2 separate regions of the Homo sapiens genome follow, and region 1 is linked to region 2. Evidence: fine-mapped expression QTL. Tissue or cell type: blood mononuclear cells. Region 2 holds a variant in brackets; the other region holds the start of a gene. All regions are shown on one strand. Distances are from middle to middle.

The links. PIP is the estimated chance that this variant, and not a neighbour inherited with it, causes the effect.
Region 1: it holds the start of ZNF251, and the variant in region 2 is fine-mapped to the expression of ZNF251 in blood mononuclear cells (TOPMed, PIP 0.97).

Annotation. Positions count from the first base shown.
Region 1 is chr8:144,750,527-144,758,629 of GRCh38, forward strand. ZNF251 (zinc finger protein 251) reads right to left here and starts at 5,005. Exons shown (of 5, transcript NM_138367.2): 1 at 4,879-5,005; 2 at 4,170-4,277; 3 at 3,666-3,795; 4 at 3,157-3,270. The coding sequence starts at 4,202. It overlaps LOC107986986 (a long non-coding RNA gene), which reads left to right. Exons shown (of 3, transcript XR_001746149.3): 3 at 6,780-8,103.
Region 2 is chr8:144,846,566-144,854,668 of GRCh38, forward strand. It overlaps COMMD5 (COMM domain containing 5), which reads right to left and starts at 6,483. Exons shown (of 2, transcript NM_014066.4): 1 at 6,274-6,483; 2 at 3,611-4,830. The coding sequence starts at 4,773. The coding sequence ends at 4,099. It also overlaps a transcript of ZNF7 not described here. RefSeq lists silencers at 4,340-4,491, 6,524-6,713 and enhancers at 5,698-6,546, 6,124-6,453, 7,004-7,103. The variant C/T (reference allele first, on the strand shown) is at 3,337.

The DNA.
Region 1 (8,103 bases), 96 kb before region 2:
GGCAGGTCTTGTTAAGAACAGAATGGTATATTCCAAAGTGGTCCCTTTTCACTTCCTCCTGCCAGAAGCACAAGGAGATTTTTCTCTGATATTCACTGTCAGTACCTAATAGAGCTCCTGGAGGTAAAGCTCACAAAAGTATGGGGTCCTCCCATGACCGGGTCCCCCTGGAGTTTTTTTTCAGAGTTGTCCACACTGAGCCTCTAGCAATTTGCCAGTTACATTTTAGGCTTACCCATCTGGCCACCGGTTCCCTGGGAGATTATTGCTCACAAGATGTGGTTGTGATTCTTTGTATCTGCCTGTTTATCTCTCCAGAGTTTTTTTTTTTTCTTTTTTTTTTTTTAGAGTCTCGCTCTGTCACTCAGGCTGGAGTGCAGTAGTGCAATCTTGGCTCACTGCAACCTTTACCTCCTGAGTTTCAGCGATTCTCCTGCCTCAGCCTCCCGAGTAGCTGGGATTACAGGAACCCACCACCACGCCCAGCTAATTTTGTGTTTTTAATAGAGACAGGGTTTCACCATGTTGGCCAGGCTGGTCTTGAACTCCTGGCCTCAACTGATCCACCTGCCTCGGCCTCCCAAAGTGCTGGGATTACAGGTGTGAGCCACCGCACCCGGCCATACCTCTCCAATTTTGAGAGCAGTGATTTGTCCTCTGACCTCACACCTCTCTGATGGAGCTAAGATTTGTTGATTTTTCAGTTTGTTCAGCTTTTTACTTGTTAGGACACAGTGATGACTTCTAAAGTCCTTACATGTCAGAAACAGCTAAAATACTATTTATTTGGCCTTTTTCCTTTTCCTTTTTTATAAACTATATAACTGTTTAAAACTGAAATTATCACATTGTCTTTCTGAGTTTAAAATGTTATGTAGATGTATTACACATAACAACTATAACAAAAAGGATGGGAGGGATGGTTACAAGATTTCTGGATTTATGTGAAGTAGTACACAAATGAACTGTAAGTAAACTGTGGAAACTTATGTATACTGTAAACCTTAGGAAAATCACTGTAAAAAATAATGCAAAAAGATTATGTAAAAAGCAAATAATAAAATTTAAATGGAGTTATAAAAAGTATTCAAATAACCCAAATAAAGGCCGGAAAGAGGAATTTAAAAAACAGAAGAGGTAAATGTAAGTAAAAAATAAAATATTATGCACAAGTGCATTCCTGAACCATATAAACAATTACATTAAACATTAACAGACTAAACACTACAATTAAAAGACAAAGATTGTTAGGATGAAGAAACAAGACCCAATTGTATGATATCTGCAAGAGATTCACTTTAAGTGTAAAGACAGGTTGAAATTAAATGGATGAAAGAAGATATACTATGCTAACAGTAAGTATAAGAAGGATGGAATTGCTACATTAATATTAGATAAAATATATTTCAAAACAAAATGTATTACCAGAGACAAACAGGAATTCTCTTATCTCTCATAATGATAGTCATAAGTGAAGTAAGTCTTATAATACAGCTTCAAGATACATGAAGCCAACACTACAAAAATTAAAGTGAAGAAAAGACAATTCCACAATCATACTTCTGTATTTTAACACCCCTCTCTCAGCAACTGAAAGAATAACTAGACCAAAAAAAAAAAAAAAAAAAAAATCAGCAAGGATACAGAAGACCTGAACAATACCATCAACCACCTTGACTTAACTGATATTTATCTAACCCCCAAATGGCAGAATACACATTCTTTTTCAGTGCACGTGGTATTTGTACTGGGAGAGACCACATTTGGGGTCATAAAACAAGAAGCAACAAATATGAAAGGAATGAAATAATACAGAGTATGTTCTCTGACCACAGTGGAATTAAATGACAATAACAATAAGATAACTAGGAAAACACCAACTATCTGGAAATTAATGCATGTCCAAATAATCATTGGGTCAAAGAAGAAGTCACAAGAAAAACTAGATAACATTTTGAACTAAATGTTAATGAAAATACAACATATTAAAATTTTGTGAGATGCAACTTAAGCTGCACTTTGAGAAAACGATATAATTTTACAATCTTAGCTCTTACATGTAGAAACCAAATGCTTTATTCAACCAATTTTGAATGTGCACAAATATGGGGTATATTTTTCACGAGCCTTTCTGAATAAACTAGAAGACAAGCTCCAGCCAACCAAGAGATGGGGAAATTTTTGGTAAAAGGACCAGAGATAAACAATTATTAATAACATACTTAACTGGAGATATAAGCCAGTAACAAAGCTGCGGATATGAGTTGTAAAGTGTTATATGTTCTGACAGTGTAGAAACAATATAACCAACAAAAACTGGGAAAGGAATGAGGAGGAAAAGGGAGAAAAGTAGAACAAGCTTGTTGACTGTCTCAGTAGCTGGCAGTCAAAGATAATACTTACAGCTGACATATCAAGTAGTAGATGTATATTCAATAGAACAAAGGTAAACATTAAAAAAAGCCACTGGTCAGGTGCAGTGGCTCATGCTTGTAATCTCAGCACTTTGGGAGGTCGACATGGATCACTTGATCTCAAGAATTTAAGACCAGTTTGGGCAACGTGGTGAAACCTTGTCTCAACAAAAATAAAAAAAAAACTAGCCAGGTATGGTGACATGTGCCTGTAGTCCTAGCTACTTGGAAAGCTGAGGTGGGAGGATTGCCTGAGCCTGGTACGTGGAGGTTGCAGTGAGCCGAGATCGTGCCACTGCACTCCAGCCTGGTGACAGAGTGAGATTCTGTCTCGAAAAAAAAAAAAAAAAAAAAAAAAAGACTACTACTGACTAAACTTGGCAAATGAAGGAGAGAATGGAGTGAAGAATAAAAAGGACATGGTAGGGTACCGATATCTATTGTCAAAAGGAAATAAGTGTATTATAAAGAAGGGAATGAAGTTGTTATCAAGGTAAATCACCAAAACAAAAATATGATCAGAAGTAGTATATATATATTTTTAAAGCAAAGAAACAGACCAGCAAGATAAAACTTCTAAAGCATGTGCACATGCTCACATTTGTAGAGGGGCTGTATCTGTGAGACTGCCCCTGGGGGAGGCCATTAATATGAACGCCATGCCCCAGCTGTCCCTCGCTTGGAGCCTCTTAAGGCAGGATTGGGAGGCTGCTCCCAGGATTAGCATCCCATCCATTCTCACCTTTCTGGCAGCTTTTCAAGATATCTGGTTCCTCAGCTCCCAGAAGATTCAGGACCCAAAGTTCCTTCCCCTGCTCCAGCTGGGAGATCAACTCCGGCTTAGGGACAGGGAATCCTGTTGAGGATGAGGACACTGGTGAGCTGGCATGGCCCACTGGGCCTTCCAGGCCAGGTGTGGAGAGATGGGCCCTGTGTGCACGTGTGTACGCCTGCACGTGTGTTGGTCAGGGGGCCCGTGGGCTGAGACTAAGTACTGAAGGAGAATCCACTCATCAGCTCTCCTGCCACTGGAGGGACACCAGTGGGGCCACTGGCAACAGGGAGTGAAGTCCCTAGAACTGGGGAGCAAGGCAGGCTTTTCCCATGGGAAATGTTCCTTCTGTAGAGATCAGACTGATACCCGGGGACAAGGGGCAGGACCCTCTTCTTTGGGATCCAAAGAGCCAAAGCAGCCTCCCAAGCTCCTCAGAGGCCCCCACTGCGAACCAGGCCAAGTGCAGAGAGCCTCACCCAGAGAGGCCACGTTCCCATAGTTCTCCAGCATCACATCCCGGTAGAGCGCCCGCTGCTGGGGGCCCAGCTGCCGCCCCTCCGCCTGAGAGAAGTACACGGCCACATCCTGGAAGGTCAGCGGCATCTCCTGCAACAAAACATCGCCGCTGCCCAGGCCATGCCCACGGGGCAGCAGCCTGCACTAAAAGGGCCCTGACCTGGTGGGGCCCCACTACCCAGGGCCCTGCTGTGGTCAGTATGAACTGTGTATCAGCAGGTCCCTGATGGGGCAGCTGAGAGCGCTGAGGACCAGCCAACTTCAGCTACACGGGGACCCAGCTGAGCTCAGAGCCCCTCTCCCTGCAGGAGGGCGAGTCTACCTCTCAGAACCCTTTCCTCACGGTTGCTATGAGCCCCTGGCTGGCCTTACCAGTTGCCGGGCTCACGGCTCCAGAGGAGAGTAGCTTCTGACTGGGATGGGGATGAAGATGAAGAGGTGGGCAGGAAGGAGGGTTAACTCACCTGGTGCCCTGGAAGCTGGAATGTGGCTGCCATTCTGTGTGCATGGGCTGCTGTGGTTTCCAAGAGAAGACAGGAGACTGCCCTGGCCTGAAGTCTCCCCGAACTTACCTTCAGTGGGGAGAACTCAGGCTCAGCCCCATTCAACCAGGGGTGTGGAAGGATGGCCAGGAGGCAGAAGCTGATTGCTGCTGTGGCCTCCTGGGTCGCGGGAGGCAGGTCACTATGCAGCACGGGCCGACGTGCCCTACTGCTCAGTGACTCCTGAAATCCCAGAACGGCCAGAGCCAGAGCCCGGGGGGATCCAGGGACGCCCGGCTAAGGGGTGAAAGCTGGCAGTTCCCGTGGTCCAGACCTGCTGAAGGCCCTGGAAATGGGGTGCAGGGCCGTTCTACCTGCCTGGCCAACCTGGGGCAAAGAGCCACGTGAGGGTGCAGCCTCACCAAGGCTGAGGACGTGAGAAGGAGGCCGCGGGGATGCTGCCGAAGGCCCCAGGCTCCGGGGAGAGGCCGGAAGCCAGCTGTGGTCCTCAGTCCAGCCTTCTAGGGCCGCGCCGCGGTCGCCTCCTCCCGGCCTCTGCAGCCCGTCGGTGGCTCCCGCGGCACCCAGAACAGGCTCCTCCTGGACTGGCCGCCGCCTCCCCGCGCCCTCCCCGCGCCCTCCCCGCCTGCCTGCCCGCTTGGCGCTCCTTCCTGGTCCGACACTGCCCCACCTGTTTGCTCGACCCGGGGAAGCCACCGAGGAAGCGCCGAGGAGCTGCGCAGTCGCACCGAGCCCGGAACGGACCCTCCCACAGAACCGGGTCCAGAGCCGGGGAGGGGGCGGGCTAGGATGAAGAGGGCGGGCCGGGCCGAGCTGCGCACACGCAGGCTTCCCCGCCCCCTGCGGGGCCTCAGTACGCCTCCGAGAACGCCGGGAACCGGAAGCCAGCCGCGGTTCCGCCCGGATTCTTCCGGGGCCGCTCTGGGATGACTGGAGGCCTGCGCCGTCTATGGTCGGGGAGGGGGAGAGCCCACGGCAGCTGAGCGGAGGGTCTGGCGCGGTGACGCTGCGCATCCGGGCCGCGCCGCGCTCGCCCCGACCCTAAACCCTCACCTGAACCCTAACCCCGCTGGGCTCCCGGCTCCCCCGTCGGTCACCATACATCGTGTGTCCCGATTCACCATAACCACCAGAAAGTCGCTTATGAAGATGTTACAATTATCGGGGCTCAGAACACAACGCCCCAAAATGAAGGCCTGGGAGGCAGTTTCCCTCTGACCTTCCCAGGCCTCCAGTCTCAGTTCTTTTCTCCCGCGAGGCTCCTCACAGAGTGAATCCCTTTTACCCAAGGCGAGTCCCAGAGGCCAGACCCCCAAAGCCAGCCACAAAACCTAAAAACACGACTCTGATGTTCCCCCCGCTTTTCTGTGTGAAAACTGGCGGTAAAGGCCGGGCGTGGTGGCGGGCGTCTGTAGTCCCAGCTACTCCGGAGGCTGAGGCGGGAGAATCGCTTGAACCCGGGAGGCGGAGGTTGCAGTGAGCCGAGATCGCGCCACTGCACTCCAGCCTGGGTGACAGAGCGAGACTCCATCTCAAAAATAAATAATAAATAAATAAATAATCCATTTATTTGCCTTTTCTCCAAAAATCTGCCTTTTATGAGTTGGCTTTCAGTGAACCTTCAGAGGGCAAAGAGGAACTTTCCCTTTGGCCCCTACACAATAAAGCATGGTTGAAAAAATAGCACTTGATAAAGGTGAGGAGACCAGCTTAGGAGCAGGGGGAGAAGGAAAGGAAAGCCAAGCCATCTTGTCACCCAGAATATAGTGTAGGCCCTGTACACTGTGTTAGAATCAAGGCAGAAATTTTATATCTGAACTTGAGACGATCAACGAGGATGGAGAATGTCTAGAAGTCTAAAGCACCATGCAAAGTCACACATGATTAAGAAGATGCCTTACATTATTAATATCAGTGCTGGGGAGATTGTGGAGAATTACGCACTGCTATGCTTGAGGAAGCGTGTTTAGTACAATGTTGAAAATGAATTAAGCTGTACATAAAGAGCCTTAAACACTTCAATTAATCTAGGAATCTATCCTATGGAAATAACAAAAATGACAAAGAGAAGGGTGCCCATTCCAGAGTTTGTTGTGTGTGTGGTTTTTTTTAAATAATGGGGAGAATTTGGAAAATAGCTAGTTATTCATAGAAGGGGAAATGGAAGATAATTATGCTTTTTGCAGCACAGAAATAGATAAATCTATTGTCTTCTGTACACTCAGTTGAACATTATGCAGCCATTATGTGTGGTATTTGAAAAAAAAGTATTGGCAGAGGGTAATGCTTATGAAATAGAATGTGAAAAATAGAATACAAAATTATATTTATGATATGATCTCAATTGTATATATGGGTGTTTAAGTTCACAAACTTAAGGTTTCCAGATATAAGGACCTAGGTTGGTTTGTTCACTGCTCAGCCACCAGCCTGGAACATAGTAAGTACTCTATAAATACTTGGGAAGTGCTTGAAAAACGTATATAAAAAGCTGAAAATAAATACATCATTACTAGTTGTAAGATTGCAGAATATTTGATTTCCTCTTTTTCTTTTTCACATCTCCTACAGGGGGCGTGTAATCACTCTGTGACTGGTGGCTGCAGGCTCTCCTAATGGATATTTCCTATTTACAGGGCTACCAACTGCCAAGCATCCAAGCAGTCCCTAGGCAGCAATCCAGCAGCTGACAGGGTTACCGGCGTCAACTGCCACAGATGCTAGGCTGGTTTGCCATATTTACATGGATTTGATCAGCAATGAGCACAAAAGATAGAGATTGTTTCTTTCTTTCTTTTTTTTGAGGTGGAGTTTTACTCTTGTTGCCCACGCTGGAGCGCAATGGTGAGATCTTGGCTCACTGCAACCTCCACCTCCCAGGTACAAGTGATTCTCCTGTCTCAGCTTCACAAGTAGCTCGGATTACAGGCATGCAGGACCATGTCCAGCTAATTTTTTTGTATTTCGTAGAGACGGGGTTTCACCATATTAGTCAGGCTGGTGGCAAACTCCTGACCTCAAGTGATCCACCTGCGTCGGCCTCCCAAAGTGCTAGGATTACAGGTGTGTGCCACTGTGCCCAGCCTAGATTGTTTATTTCTTACTCAAACAGCTACAGCATGATCAGCAGCCTGTGTCCCTAGACACACAAGATGACAGCAAACCATAGGGGCCAGATGACAGAAAGCACAGATGGTGGCCACGGTGCTGCTGAGGCGCCAGCTCCACACTGCAGCCAGGCAGTGGTGTGTCCGCAGCTGTACCCCAAGGAGGGGCAAAGGGAGCATCCCAGACGCAGCCAACCAGGGGCCCAGGGGCGCTGCTGTCACTGTCGTTTCTTACAAGGTTGCTTGTCTCCCTTAGTTTCAGGAGGAACCTCCAAGCATTCTGCCAAACTCAGTTCACACGGTGATGGACCTTGCCACACAGCTATGTGAAGATGTCCAAGGTCCTCAGGGCCCAGAACAGAGCTGTTCCCTACTCCACTGACCTCCCTGTTTCTAAAACCAGTGGGCTTTTTTTTTCCTTTGAGACAAGGTCTCTCTCTGTTACCCAGGCTGGAGTGCAGTAGCACAATCTCAGCTCACTGCAACCTTCACCTCCCCGGGCTCAAGCAATCCTCCCACCTCAGCCTTATGAGTAGTTGGGATCACAGATGCGTGCCACCACATCGGGCTAATTTTTTGTATTTTTTTGGTAGAGACAGGGTCTTGCTCTGTTGCCCAGGCTGGTCTCAAACTCCTGACCTCAAGTAATCCACCTGCTTTGGCCTCCCAAAGTGCTGGGATTACAGGTGTGAGCCATAGTGCCTGGCCACCAGTGGGCATTTTTTAGTTTTCCTTTACTTGACCTCTCAGCAATATTTGACACCATGAACTGTCTGTCCTTCTTGGAA
Region 2 (8,103 bases):
TCTCAGCCCTTAGTGGTTTCTTTACCTAAATGTCACGGTACAACTGAGAATAAGGCAGCTGGGTCAGTTCAATAGAAGTAAACCTAAAGTCCAACAATCCAGGTTAGATATTAGCCACGGAGGGATGGGAGGAGGAGTCTTCTTTTTTTTTGAGACGGAATCTCGCTCTGTCCCTCAGGCTGAAGTGCAGTGGTGCGGTCTCGGCTCACTGCAAGCTCCGCCACCTGGGTTCACGCCATTCTCCTGCCTCAGCCTCCCGAGTAGCTGGGACTACAGGTGCCTGCTACCACGCCCGGCTAATTTTTTTGTATTTTTAATAGAGACGGGGTTTCACTGTGTTAGCCAGCTGGTCTCGATCTTCTGACCTCGTGATCCGCCCGCCTCGGCCTCCCTAAGTGCTGGGATGACAGGCGTGAGCCACCATGCCGAGCTGAGGAGGAGTCCTCTTCTAGCTGCACGATGTGGAAATGACACATCATGTCCATGGGGCAGCTTGCTGAGAGCCAAGGGTGTGAGCACATGACTTAAATTCAAGCTACTGCACAGCTTTGAGATCTGAGTATCACATGGAAGCATCCAGGTGGCCCCTGGCACACAGGCTGGTGGTTCTTTTGTGGAGAGGGAGAGGAAGAGGGGCTGCTCATGGGGTAGTGCAGGTGCTAGAATATCCTGTTAACCTGTTCACACTGCACTGCAATTCGGGCTTCGGTAAGCTCATCTAAAGAGTTTCCAGGCCAGGCACGGTGGCTCACGCCTGTAATTCCAGCACTTTGAGAGGCCAAGGAAGGATCACGTGACCCCAGGAGTTCGGAGACCACAGTGAGCTGTGATCGCACCACTGCACTCTAGCCTGGGTGACAGAGTGAGGCCCTGTCTCCACAATATATAAATAAAAACATTTTGGGTTTCTGTTTTGGAGACAATAAATTAAATCTATAACCTAGGCCTGGAATTGCTTTTTATCTCAACTATCAGAATAATCTTTCATTTATGACACTGAATTGAAACTATCTGGACCTTTCTGGAAGCTTCACAAAGTGAAGCAGAGCAAGGGCCGGGTCCAGGCCATTTTATAAATCCTCAAGTCCCCAGTGCATGCAGCTTGACTCAGAGCCCCAGAAATGTTTGCTGAATGAGTGAGTGATGCAGGTGGGGAGGCATCCAGGCTTTGAGCTCAGGACAGTGCCACAGGAGAGGGAAATCACCAGCAAGTTTCCACAGAGAACTAAGGCCAAGAAAACCAAGGGAGTAATTTCCCAGATGCAGACATCCGTTCTCTGTGCAAGGCCTTGTGCAAGCCACGGGGACAAAGATGGACAGGGCTGGCCTCTGCCCTGGAGTCCAGGTCTAATGGAGACTGGCCACTGACAAGGATGGACAGGTGCTCTGTACTGGAGGGGTCCAGTGGGCTCATGGGGTTGGCGCCAACCATGCCTGGACTAAGAATGGTTTTTCAATGGAAAAAAATACTTTGTGACACATGAAATTAAAATTTCATGGCTGGGTGTGGTGGCTCATTGCTGTAAAACCAGCACTTTGGGAGGCCGAGGTGGGCAGATCACCAGAGCCCAGGAATTCAAGACCAGCCTGGGCAACGTGGCAAAACCCCATCTCTACAAAAAATCTGAAAATTAGCCGGGTGTGGTGTGGTGTGCCTGTGAGCCCAGGAGGTTGAGGCTACAGTGAGCCATGATCGTGCCATTGCATTCCAGACTGGATGATGGGGAGACCTTGTCTCAAAAAAAAAGGAAAATTTCAATATCCATTAAAAAAATATCATTGGAGGCCAGGCTCGGTGGCTCATGCCTGTAATCCCAGCTGCCTGGGAGGCTGAGACATGAGAATTGCTTGAACCTGGGAGGCAGAGGTTGCAATGAGTCGAGATCGTGCCACTGCACACCAGCCTGGGCAACAGGAGTGAAACTCCCGTCTCAAAAAAAAAAAAAGATGGTATTGGAACACAGCCATATACATTTGTTTACGTATTGTGTGACTGCTTTCAAGCCACCATGGCAGGGTGGACAGAAACTTCATGGCCCACAAAATCTAAAATGTTTACTCTCTGGCCCTTTGTGGGAAGAGTTTGCTCACTGCTGAGTCAGAGGAAGTGGCCTCTAAGTCTGCTCCACGCTGTAGGGATCTCAAGTCCAACTGGATCATGTCTGCCCTGATTAAAACCCCACTGCTCCCCCTTGCCCCAGTGGAATGACCAAAATCCTGTGTGTGGCCTTGAGGCCAGCCGCTGTCCCTGCACTTGATCCCCCATCCCTCAATCCCCTATACTCGGGCAGTGCCAGCCCCAGTCCCAGGAATGGCCCACTCCCCTGCCTGTGTCTCATAAGCTGTCTTTTCATGGCTGTGTCTTGATTTGCCTGGGTCCCCGCTTGAGACAAGCCCAAGGGTTCACAGATGAATTGAGGCAAACACAGATTCCCAATGAGAGACGGCGAGAGGTCAGCCTGAGGACCGAGGGCAGGTCCATGCTCTGGGCTCCACACAGGCTTTGCTAAGCAGCTGGGAGAAGCAGAAGGATGGGGCTGTCCCTAAAGCTGCTGTTCCTGCAGGGCCAGGGCCAGTGAGTGAGAAAGGCAACATGGTCCCAGCTGCCCCAGCCCCATCCACATCTGGGGACAGAGAATGCAGGAAGTGGCTGGTCATATTCCTGATCCGATGACAGTGGGGGGACAGTGCCTTCGGGGAGAGAGAAGGGCTTTACCTGGAACTCAGTGAGGGTGGGACAAAGCTGAGTGATCGACCAGATGGCAGGACCCACAAGCATGCACCTTAGAGGGCACCTGGGCTCCTCCCAGAGTCTACTGACCCCACCCCCAGGTACTCCTCTGTACCCTGACATGTCAGAACTGCCCATGGAGGGATGAGGAAGAAATCCAGGCTAGTGGAGGAGACAACCCAAAAACTGCAGACAAGACAAACAGCCAAGCAACCCCAGGCACTCAAAGACAAGGGGAGGTTTCTCAGCAGAGAACAGACTAGACATGGTCCAGAAGTGCTCCACGGAGGCAGGAACAGTCAGCTGGAAGCCAGCTGACCGAAAATGGCTCTGCAGAGACCGAGCACCAAGGCCCCTCCTGGAACACAGTTATGCTGGAAGCTGCAAAGCTGGCTACAACCCCTGCACACACCTGCCCTAGAGGCACCCGGGAGAGGTCCCTGCCACCAACTCCACCCTGGTGACAGCCTCTCTGCTGGGCTCTAGCCTCCTCCCTTGCACCCCTCCACACAGCAGCCAATCACCAGATCACGTCTCTCCTCTGCTGAAAACCCTCAGAAGGGCTCCTCTGTCACTCAGAATTGAGCCAAAGTCCTTAAAAGGCT[C/T]TCAGGCCTTGACCTCTGTACCCTCCCCAACGTCGCCTCCCCACAATGATCTCCACCTGCTTGGCTGCAGCCAGGCGGGCCTTAAGCACGTCAGGCCTCCCCACACTGGCCGCCTGAGCCCCGTCCTCCCCACCTTGTGCTGCTCCCCTCAGAGCGCTGTGCCCCCGGCTCCTTCAAGTCCTCGCTCAGATGTCACACCCTCAAGGAAGGTCGCCCCATCAGCACGCAGACCCCACCCTACTTGCTGCATCACACGCCATCCTCTGATGAGCTATTCCAGTTAATTTTTATGATTTATTTTACAATGTTTCCCCTCCCCTCAGCCGCACTAGAATGTCAGCTCCATGGGGTCAGGGATTTAAGGCAGAAGAGTGAAAATGCCCAACCTAAAACACAAGATCTACAAAAGCACCTGGCTACATGGGGCCAGGCTGAGCAACTGTATGTTGTCTACAAAGGGCCTCAACCTGGCCTCACATGGCCACGTCCAGCACCAAAGACAAATGTACAGGGAAGGGGAGGGTGTGAGGTCCAACACTCACCTATAGAAACATGTTTTTAGCTGCTTTACTTCCAAAAAGAAAAAAAGGCATAGCTCTCTTTTTCAATTAAACAGAAAACTACATAATTACGTTCAAACACTCACTGAAGAGCCTGCCTCATGGGAAGGGCAGGGCTGTCGTGGGAAGAGTCAGCTGCACTTTGGCACCATCTCAGGTGCCTGTCCAAGCCGGATCTGAATGGGACTGGTCAAGTGAGGGGTCAGTCCTGCAGTCTGCGCTCACACCTCTTCTCCAGATCTGCCATCTCCTTTAGGACCAGGGCCACGCTGTACCGCAGCTCCTGGAACTTGGCTGTGGGGACCTCAAAGCGGTATGCTGACCCATCTGAAAGCTTCAGCTGCATCAGGACGCTCGGCTGCAGGGAGCGAGCCAGGGCACTGGTGGAGATTGCTACATCCACCCGCCACCGAAAGTCAGCAACATGCGGCAGCCAGGCCCCCTGCTGCTGGGCCACAGAATCAAGGAGGGGCCGCTGGCTCCCAAATACCACGCTGGCCAAGTCCCCGACCAGGTCTTGGGGGATGCAGAGCTCCTGGAGCTGGTCCCTGAAGGTGTCAGGCTTCAGGCTGGTGGGGGGCAGACGGAGGGCCTGCTGGAGCAGTGTGTGCATGCCTGCCAGCAGGGCACCCAGCTGCTCCTCCGGCAGGTTGGCGCTGACCCCAAGACGCTGCACAGCCTCTCGGCAGTCCTCCCCCTGCAGGCTGCTGACCACAAACTTCAGCAACTTTCTGAACGTGCTCCTGTCTAGGTCCCCTAGTAGCCGGGCCATTGCTGCCACCTCTGGAGGAAGCTGGGCCCCCAAGAAACTCACTCGGCCACTGTGACTATCACCAGGATGATGCAGGTATGGAGTTGCAGCCCCCACAGCAGACATTGCTGCTGCTTCCTCTTTGATCAGCCAGCCCAGGAGGTCGGTCCCAGATGCAGATGCCTAGAGTGGGGTGGAGGAGAGAAGACCAGTGACTCTCACATCCTTTGGGCCAGCGAGTGAGGGTTGATATGGTCCCCATCATCAGCATGCTGACAGTGTGAACTACCAATGACAGTCAGTGCTGCGGAGATGGCCCTGGAAGCAGGTGGCAGAGGGGTCCATGTCAGTCCCAGGAGGAGCGGAGGCCTCCCAGAGGAAGTGACATCTAAGGCATGAAGGACAAGCAGGAATTGGCAGAGAAGTAGGGGGCAGGGAGGAGGACCAGGAAACAGCACAAGTTCTCCAAGTAAATTAATAGATGAAAGAATGAACTAGGGGAACGGTCCGGGGAACACAGGGACACTGCAGCTGGCGCCACAGACCACACTGAGACCATTTAACTATTCAATCTTGAATCCTTCACAACAGTGGGCAAGAAGAATTACCATTCTCACCTGACAGAGAGGGAGATAAGGCTCTAGGCCAGGTGCAGTGGCTCAAGCCTGAAATCTCAGCACTTTGTGAAGGTGAGGCCAGCGGATCGCTTGAGCCCAGGAGTTGGAGACCAACCTGGGCATCATAGCAAGACCCCGTTTCTACAAAAAATTTAAAAAACTAGCCAGGCGTGGTGGTGCACGTCTGTAGTCCCAGCTACTCAGAAGGCTGAGAGGACAGAGGATCCCTTGAGCCCAGGAAGTCGTGGCTGCAGTGAGACGAAATCGAGCCGCTGCACTCCAGCCTGGACAACAGAGATGCTGTGAGGAAGGAAGGAAGGAACGAACGAATGGAGGGAGGGGGGAGGGAGGGGAGGCAGGGAAGAAGAAAAGAAAAGTAAAAAGAAATCAAAGCTCTAAACACAGCTGCCAAAGTCAAGGACTGAAGCCTAGACCTGTCTATTCAGAAGTCCCAGCTGTTTCCACCACAGCCCCAACCCCCGGGCTGGAAGAGCTGAGCAACGGCTGGCAACAGAGGCAAGTGCGGCAACTAAAGAGGGTTCCGACGCACCTGAAGGAGCAGTGCAGCAGCACAAGCACCTGCTATGCCAGAGGAAACGCACGTGCCCACCTCAGCACACCAGGTACTGGAGCAGAGCTCAGCGGGGCACAGCTCCTGTCCTCGAGGCACTTGTCAGGCCACTCTGCACAGCGCTGGGGGAGCCCAGGAGCTCCCCACGGGCTTCACGGCGCCCCATTCTCCCTGGGAGTCAACGACCACCCACTGCCAACTCCTTCACCGTCCCGCCAGCACCAGGAGCTCCTTCCCACTCCAAAGAGCCATCCGGGAAGGCCTCCGAGCTGCCCGCTTCCGGTCGCGCGGCTTGGAAGGCCGGGTTCGCACCCTGACTCCGTACCCGCGGCTCTGATGGGGGCGCGGCGTCGCCCGTTCCGGGGCGCGGGGACCTTGGTGCACAGAGTCAAATTGGCACTCGGCCGTCGCCGCCCCCACGGTTCGGGGCCAACCTACCGGCGGGCGCTCCTCCGCGGAAAAGCCCCGCAGTATCCAGAGCTCTCCGAACACAGCGGCGAAGCAGCCTTTCCTAGGCCCACACCCCCAGCTCGGGAGGGAGACTCCATCCTACTCCACCCCACGCTCCCGCTGTCCGAGTCGCCCCCAGCACCTGGCGCCGGCAATCCCCGGCTGATGCAGCCAAAAGCGGGCCTGGTCCCCGGAAGCGCCCTGAGAGCCACTTCCGGGCCGCTCTAGGAAGGCAGCAATGACCGCCCCACTGTGGTCCGCTGGCCCGAGGGGCGGAGCCGAGGCCGCGCCAGGTCCCGCCCCCTCCCCGCCCGGGGGAATCGGGGGTCGCCGGCGGGGTCCCAGACCTCGTCTTAGACAGTTTTTTTTTTTTCTTTCCCCAAAGAAAAAGAAGGCGGTGTTGTGTTTCCGTTTCTGAGGTAGAAACTGCGGCCTGCGCCCGCGTCTCCCTCCCCGCCCGCGCAGAGTGAGGGTAAAGCGGGAGAACGCGTCCCGTGGTCTGGGGTCAGAATTCCAGTCACCTGAGGCTGAGGAGCTCGCTGGCTTTCGTCGGCGTCCGGGTGGGCGGCGGGGAAACCGCGAGACCTTGAGGATCAGCGCGGAGCGGAGCCGAGCGGGCGTCCCTGTCCCGTGTGGACGGTCTGCGCCTCCAGGGTTTTGAGAGCTGCCCCGTTTCCCCTCCTGTCGGGTGGCGTCCGGCGCGCGTGACTCGGTTCCGCTTTGGGCTGCTCTGTTGGGCCCTAGCGCAGGAGCTCGGTCCGAAACAATGGCCGAGCCATTTTATTTAACATGTACTTTACCATAGTTAAAAAATAATATGCCAAAATCATTGAATTGTACAAAATGGGTGAATTATATGGTATGTGAATTATAGCCCAATAAAACTTAAAAAAAAAAAAAAAACTCTGAAAAGGGAAACAACCTAATTAAATGGGCAGAAGATGTGAGTAGACATCAAGGAAGATACAAAGTGGGTAATGGGTACATGAAGCCTTCGGCATTGTTGGCTATTAGAGAAATGCGAATGGAAGCCACGGGGAGGTGCCATTTCATACCATTAGAAGGGTTATAATAAAAATGACAGGTTGGGTGCGGTGGCTCACGCCTGTAATCCCAGCACTTTGGGAGGCGGAGGTGGACAACCAGATCTCAGGAGAACTCTATCATGAGACCATAACTTAAGGGCATGGTACTAAACCATTCATGAAAAGCCACCCCCACGATCCAATCACTTCCCACCAGTCTCCACCTCCAGCATTGGGTATTACCTTTCAGCATGAGGTTTGGGCGGGGACACAGATGCAAACCACATCAGCCATACAATGGAATAGTGTTCAATAATAAATAGGAGTGGAGACTGGGTGCAGTGGCTCATGCCTACAATCCCAGTACTTTATGAGGACTAGGTGGGAGGACCACTTGAGGCTAGGAGTTCAAGACCAGCCTGGGCGACATATCAAGGCTTCATTTTTACAAAATTAAAAAAAAAAACAGGTGTGGTGGTGTGCACCTATAGCAGGGGTCCCCAACCCTCAGGCTGTGGACCGCTACAGGTCAGTGGCCTGTTAGGAACTGACCTCACAGCAGGAGGTGAGGGCAACCTATAGTCCCAGCTATTTGAGAGGCAGAGTGAGGACCACTTCAGTTCAGGAATTTGAGACCAGCCTGGGGAACATGGCAAGACTCCATTTCTAAGACAAAACAAATCAAGTCTAAAAACCATGCTGAGGGAGGATTGTTTAAAGGGAATGGATCTGGGAAGTTTAGAAAGAGACTGCATCTGTAAGGTGTTATTTCTCTTTAAAATATCTGAAGCAA